Regions from separate parts of the Homo sapiens genome. Here region 1 is reported to be linked to region 2. Evidence: microRNA targets listed by miRTarBase, many of them from high-throughput screens and not tested one by one. Region 2 holds a microRNA gene; the other region holds the end of a gene's coding sequence.

Evidence for each region. The annotated mature microRNA hsa-miR-6511a-5p reads CAGGCAGAAGUGGGGCUGACAGG and lies in region 2 at 2,299-2,321, shown strand. An mRNA with a match to its seed (bases 2 to 7 or 8) in the 3' UTR can be bound and repressed. Matches are read on the target gene's strand: a 7mer-m8 pairs with bases 2 to 8, a 7mer-A1 pairs with bases 2 to 7 and ends in A, and an 8mer does both.
Region 1: miRTarBase lists SDE2 as a target of hsa-miR-6511a-5p. Seed matches in the 3' UTR shown: 7mer-m8 at 1,036-1,042 and 7mer-m8 at 1,599-1,605.

What each region holds. Positions count from the first base shown.
Region 1 is chr1:225,982,780-225,985,779 of GRCh38, reverse strand. SDE2 (spliceosome associated SDE2) reads left to right here. Exons shown (of 7, transcript NM_152608.4): 7 at 257-3,000. The coding sequence ends at 478. Among named protein-coding and RNA genes, the nearest start is that of SDE2, 15 kb to the left of the region's middle.
Region 2 is chr16:16,322,294-16,325,688 of GRCh38, forward strand. MIR6511A2 (microRNA 6511a-2) reads left to right here and starts at 2,295; the gene lies at 2,295-2,361. It also overlaps the pseudogene LOC131696449 and the pseudogene PKD1P1. RefSeq lists enhancers at 957-1,812, 1,882-2,684.

The sequences.
Region 1 (3,000 bases), not on the chromosome of region 2:
ATTAAAAATCTGTTTGGGAATGCTATACTTCTGTTACTGTTCTGAATGCTTGTTTCTAAATGTATAGATGAAAAATTAGTTATTATGTGTGTTGAGAATACTTATGGAATAACATGTGGATGGATGATGATTAAAATTCAGTTGCAAGGTATGGCAAATTAAATGAAAATTTCTCAAGAAATGTAGTTGACAGTTAAAGAGTCTTTATTCAGAGGAAGGAGCCTGTTTTAAATATTTTCTTATTTTTTTCCCTCAGGTTATTGATAAGGAAACTATAGATTTATTGGCGTTCACCTCTGTTGCAGAACTGGAGTTGCTGGGTTTGGAGAAGCTCAAATGTGAACTGATGGCCCTTGGACTGAAATGTGGGGGCACTCTGCAGGAGCGGGCAGCAAGACTCTTCTCTGTCAGAGGACTGGCAAAGGAGCAAATTGACCCGGCTTTATTTGCCAAGCCTTTGAAAGGGAAGAAAAAATGAGTATCATCAGAGCTGATTCCTATTTGTTTATAGTGTCTACCATTTACAACCTGCATAATGTGGACTCTTGACCAGTATTCCTGTTGATATTAAAAGCTAACTTTTTAGTAACCCAATTCTAACTATCCCCTTTTTCCTTGTCAGGGCTGTAGAATTAATGTCTGAAACCATCTGGGCCTTAAATTTTCTTTGTCTGGTTTTCTATAGTGTATTTAATAAATATAGGGCTATTCACATTTTTTGGTTTGATCTTGGTGTCATTTAGGTAATGAATCTATCCAAGAAATCTATCCTTTTGACCCAGGTTATCAAATTTGTAGACATAAGGTTATTTATAATGGTCCCTTCTTACCCTTTTAATGTCTTTAGGAGCTGTGTTGATAATTTCCTTTTCATTATGATACTGGTAATTTCTGTTCTCACTTTCCTAATCAGGTTGGGTAGGGGTTTATCAGTTTTACTGATCTGACTTTTTATTTTATTTTATTTTTTTTGAGACAGTCTTACACTGTCTCCCAGGCTGGAGTGCAGTGGCGCGATCTCGGCTTACTGCAAGCTCTGCCTTCCGGGTTCATGCCATTCTCCTGCCTCAGCCTCCCCAGTAGCTGGGACTACAGGCTCCCACCACCACGCCCGGCTAATTTTTTATATTTTTAGTGGAGACTGGGTTTCACTGTGTTAGCCAGGATGGTCTCGATCTCTTTACCTCGTGGTCCACCCGCCTCAGCCTCCCAGAGTGCTGGGATTACAGGCGTGAGCCACCGTGCCTGGCCGACGATATAACTTTTAAAGAACCAACCTTTGGTTTTATTTTTCTCAATTGTTTATATAATTAATTTCTGTTATTTTCTTTCTTCTATTTAGCTTGAGTCTCCTTTGATCTTTTTTCTTTAGTTCCTTAAGATAAGCCTTAGGTCATTGATCTTAGACGTTATTTAAAATACATATTTAAAGCTATACATTTTCTTTTAAGCATTACTTTAGTTGCGACTTTACAATTTTATTATGTCGTATTTTTATTATTCAGTTCTAATTTTCTTTTTTTTTTCTTTTTGAGATGGAATTTCGCTTTTGTTGCCCAGGCTAGAGTGCAATGGTACGATCTCAGCTCACTGCAACCTCTGCCTCCTGGGTTCAAGCGATTCTCCTGCCTCAGCCTCCTCAGTAGCTGGGATTACAGGCTCCAGCCACCATACCTGGCTGATTTTTGTATTTTTAGTAGAGATGGGGTTTCACCACATTGGCCAGGCTGGTCTCGAACTCCTGACCTCAGGTGATCCACCCACTTTGGCCTCCCAAAGTGCTGGGATTACAGGTGTGAGCCACCATGCCCAGCCTCTGATTATTTTCTAATTTCCTCCCTCAGTTCTTCTTTGACCCATGGATTATCAGAAGTGGGTTGTCTGATCAGCAAACATTTGTTTTTTTTCCTCTTAATATCTTCTTGTTGCTGATTTCTACTTTAATTCCATTGAGGTCAGAAAATATCCTCTTTATGATTTCAATCCTCTTAGTTTTATTGAGACTCGTTTTATGACCCAATATGTTGTCTGTCATGGTGAGTGTACCATACACAGTTTAAAAGAATGCGTATTTTAGGCCAGGTGTGGTGGCTCATGCCTGTAATCCAGCATGAGATTACATGCTGAGATTACAGCTGTAATCTGTAATTTGAGAGGCTGAGGTGGGAGGATCATTTCGAGACCAGCCTGGGCAATGTATAGTGAGACCATGTCTCTAAGAAAAACAATATGTAATTTGAATTGTTGGGTTAATATGTTTTGTAATATCGATGAGATTAAGTGGTTGATAGTATTGTTCAGATCTTCTATGTCTTTACTGATCCTTTTGTTTATTTCTATCAGGTGCTGAGAAAGGATGTTAAAATCTTCAATTATGATTGTGGAATTGTCTATTTCTTAAATTCTACCAGTTTTTGTATGAAGCTCTAATAACTTATGTCTTCCTAATGTATTGACCATTTTATCATTATGAAATTTCCCTCTGTCTCTGGTAATTTGGGTTTGAAATCTACTTTATCTTATGTGAATATAGCCACTGCAGCCTTCTTAAGCTTAGTGTTTGCACAGTATACCTCTTTCTATTAATTTACTTTGTGCTTCTGTGCCTATTTAAAGTAGTTTCTTTAAACAACATATACTTGAGACTTGCATTTTTATCTGTTCTCTCTGTATCTTTTAATAAGTTTAACATTAAATGTAATTATTAATAGGTTTCTAATTTACATGTTTCCTGTTTAGATAAGATTATTTTATAATTGTATTTTAATTTATTGGCTCTTTAGCTATACTGTTTTAATAATTTTTTTAAGTTGGATGTTCTAGTGATTACAATATACATTCTTAATTTTTCAGTCTACCTAGAGTTGATGTGCCACTTCACATAAAATGTAGAAATCTTGTAAGTATGTACATCCATTTATCATACCTGTCTTTTATGCTGTAGTTGTCATACATATTAAATCTACATATTTAAATATTGTAAGTCCTGTCATAAGTTAC
Region 2 (3,395 bases):
GTCCCCCCGCAGAGGTACAGCCCCGTGGTGGAGGCCGGCTCGGACATGGTCTTCCGGTGGACCATCAACGACAAGCAGTCCCTGACCTTCCAGAACGTGGTCTTCAATGTCATTTATCAGAGCGCGGCGGTCTTCAAGCTCTCAGTAGGTGGGCGGGAGTGGGGAGGGGAGGGGATGGGGCGGGGCGGGGGCGGGCTCCACCTTCACCTCTGCCTTCTGCTCTGCTTCATGCTGCCCGAGGACGCTGCCATGGCTGTGGTGAGTGGAGGGAGGGACGCCAAGCAGGGCAGGCCTCTCACCTGCCACCTGGGCCCACTGATGCCTGTCCCTGCAGCTGACGGCCTCCAACCACGTGAGCAACGTCACCGTGAACTACAACATCACCGTGGAGCGGATGAACAGGATGCAGGGCCTGCGGGTCTCTACAGTGCCAGCCGTGCTGTCCCCCAATGCCACGCTGGCACTGACGGCGGGCGTGCTGGTGGACTCGGCCGTGGAGGTGGCCTTCCTGTGAGTGACTCAGGGGCCGGTTTGGGGTGGGCACCAGGCTCTTGTCCGGGCACCAGGCTCTTGTCCCGGCTCCAGCCTCAGCCGAGGGACCCCACATCAGGGGGTTGCTTTTCTGAGCCTCGGTTTCCCTGTCTGTTGGGAGGTACTGGGTGCACAGGAGCCCTGAGGCTGCACGGGAGCCGGGAGAGGCCTCAGCACAGCCGGGTGGGCCCTGAATGGAGGCCCGGGGCGTGACTGCAGAGTGGAGCCTCGGCTGGGTCCCAAGCACCCCCTGCCCCGCCACCGCGCACCTGTGCCCCGCCACTGCGCACCCCTGTCCCGGTTCACTCACTGCCTCCCACCGCCCCGGCAGGTGGACCTTTGGGGATGGGGAGCAGGCCCTCCACCAGTTCCAGCCTCCGTACAACGAGTCCTTCCCGGTTCCAGACCCCTCGGTGGCCCAGGTGCTGGTGGAGCACAATGTCACCCACACCTACGCTGCCCCAGGTGAGGGATGAGGGGGTGAGGGGGCCACTGCCTTTCAGGCTCTGAGCACGGGGCCCCCCCAGTCCCCCAGTCAAGCTGCCCCGCTTCCTCCCCAACAGCCCTCACTGTGACCTCACCTGGGCTGATGGCTTAGGCCCCTACTGGGGTGAGGGAGGGGCCAGGCGTGGGAGGAGTGGACAGGGAAGCTGGGCCCCCTGAACTGCCCCCCACCGCGGCCTGGCTCTTGCTGCTCTGCTGCCCCGAGTGCAGCTGCACTTGGAGGCGGTGCCGTCCTCACCAGGCAGCCCTCAGTGCTGCTGCACCTGTGCTCCGTCCCGCACGTGGCTTGGGAGCCTGGGACCCTTAAGGCTGGGCCGCAGGTGCAGCCGTTCACCCCGGGCTCCTCAGGCGGGGGGCTTCTGCCGAGCGGGTGGGGAGCAGGTGGGGGTGCCGCGGCTGCCCCACTTGGGCCTGTCCCCACAGGTGAGTACGTCCTGACCTTGCTGGCATCTAATGCCTTCGAGAACCGGACGCAGCAGGTGCCTGTGAGCGTGTGCGCCTCCCTGCCCTCTGTGAGCGTGTGCGCCTCCCTGACTGGGGCCTGCTGGTACCCCAGAGTGGGTGTCTGTTCCCCAGTCCCTGCTTTCCTCAGCTGGCCTGATTGGGGGTCTGCCCAGAGGGGTCGTCTGAGGGGAGGGTGTGGGAGCAGGTTCCATCCCGGCTCAGCCTCCTGACCCAGGCCCTGGCTAAGGGCTGCAGGAGTCTGTGAGTCAGGCCTACGTGGCAACTGCGGTCCTCACACCCACACATACGTCTGTTCCCACACGCATCCCCCCAGGGGCCCTCAGTGAGCATTGCCTGCCTCCTGCCAGGGTCCAGCTGGGTCCAGTACACCAGAACGCACACCCCAGTGTCCTCTGCCCTGTGTATGCCCTTCCGCCGCCCAGGTTGGAAGGTGGCAAACCGGATGAGTATCCTGGGAGGGGGTGAGCTCACCGGCAGTGGCCAGGCCCCTGGGAAACCTGGAGTTTGGGAGCAGCATCCTCCACGGGTCCCCCAGACCTTCCAGCAGGCCAAATAGACCTGTGTTGGAGGTAACCCCACTCCCACGCCAGGTGCTGATCCGCAGTGGCCGGGTGCCCATTGTGTCCTTGGAGTGTGTGTCCTGCAAGGCACAGGCCGTGTACGAAGTGAGCCGCAGCTCCTACGTGTACCTGGAGGGCCGCTGCCTCAATTGCAGCAGCGGCTCCAAGCGAGGGGTGAGTGTTGAGCGGGGTGTGGGCGGGTTGGGGATGGGTCCCATGGCCGAGGGGACGGGGCCTGCAGGCAGAAGTGGGGCTGACAGGGCAGAGGGTTGCGCCCCCTCACCATCCCTTCTGCCTGCAGCGGTGGGCTGCACGTACGTTCAGCAACAAGACGCTGGTGCTGGATGAGACCACCACATCCACGGGCAGCGCAGGCATGTGACTGGTGCTGCGGCGGGGCGTGCTGCGGGACGGCGAGGGATACACCTTCACGCTGACGGTGCTGGGCCGCTCTGGCGAGGAGGAGGGCTGCGCCTCCATCCCCCTGTCCCCCAACCGCCCGCCGCTGGGGGGCTCTTGCTGCCTCTTCCCACTGGGCGCTGTGCACGCTCTCACCACCAAGGTGCACTTCGAATGCATGGGTGAGTGCAGGCCTGCGTAGGGGGAGCAGCGGGATCCCCCGACTCTGTGAGGTCACGGAGCCCTCCTGTGATGCCGTGGGGACCGTCCCTCAGGCTGGCATGACGCGGAGGATGCTGGCGCCCCGCTGGTGTACGCCCTGCTGCTGCAGCGCTGTCGCCAGGGCCACTGCGAGGAGTTCTGTGTCTACAAGGGCAGCCTCTCCGGCTACGGAGCCGTGCTGCCCCCGGGTTTCAGGCCACACTTCGAGGTGGGCCTGGCCGTGGTGGTGCAGGACCAGCTGGGAGCCGCTGTGGTCGCCCTCAACAGGTGAGCCAGGCCGTGGGAGGGCGCCCCCGAGACTGCCACCTGCTCACCACCCCCCTCTGCTCGTAGGTCTCTGGCCATCACCCTCCCAGAGCCCAACGGCAGCGCAATGGGGCTCACAGTCTGGCTGCACGGGCTCACCGCTAGTGTGCTCCCGGGGCTGCTGCGGCAGGCCGATCCCCAGCACGTCATCGAGTACTCGCTGGCCCTGGTCACTGTGCTGAACGAGGTGAGTGCAGCCTGGGAGGGGACCTCACATCTGCTGCATGCGTGCTGGGGACCAAGACCTGTTCCCCTGCCTGGAGCTTTGCGGAGGGCTCATCCCGGGCCCCAGAGATAAATCCCAGTGACCCTGAAGCAGCACCCCGACGTTCCGCTCCCAGCAGCCACACCCACCAGGCCCTCTCCGGCGTCTGCTTTCCACAATGCAGCCCCCGCCCAGGAGGGCCC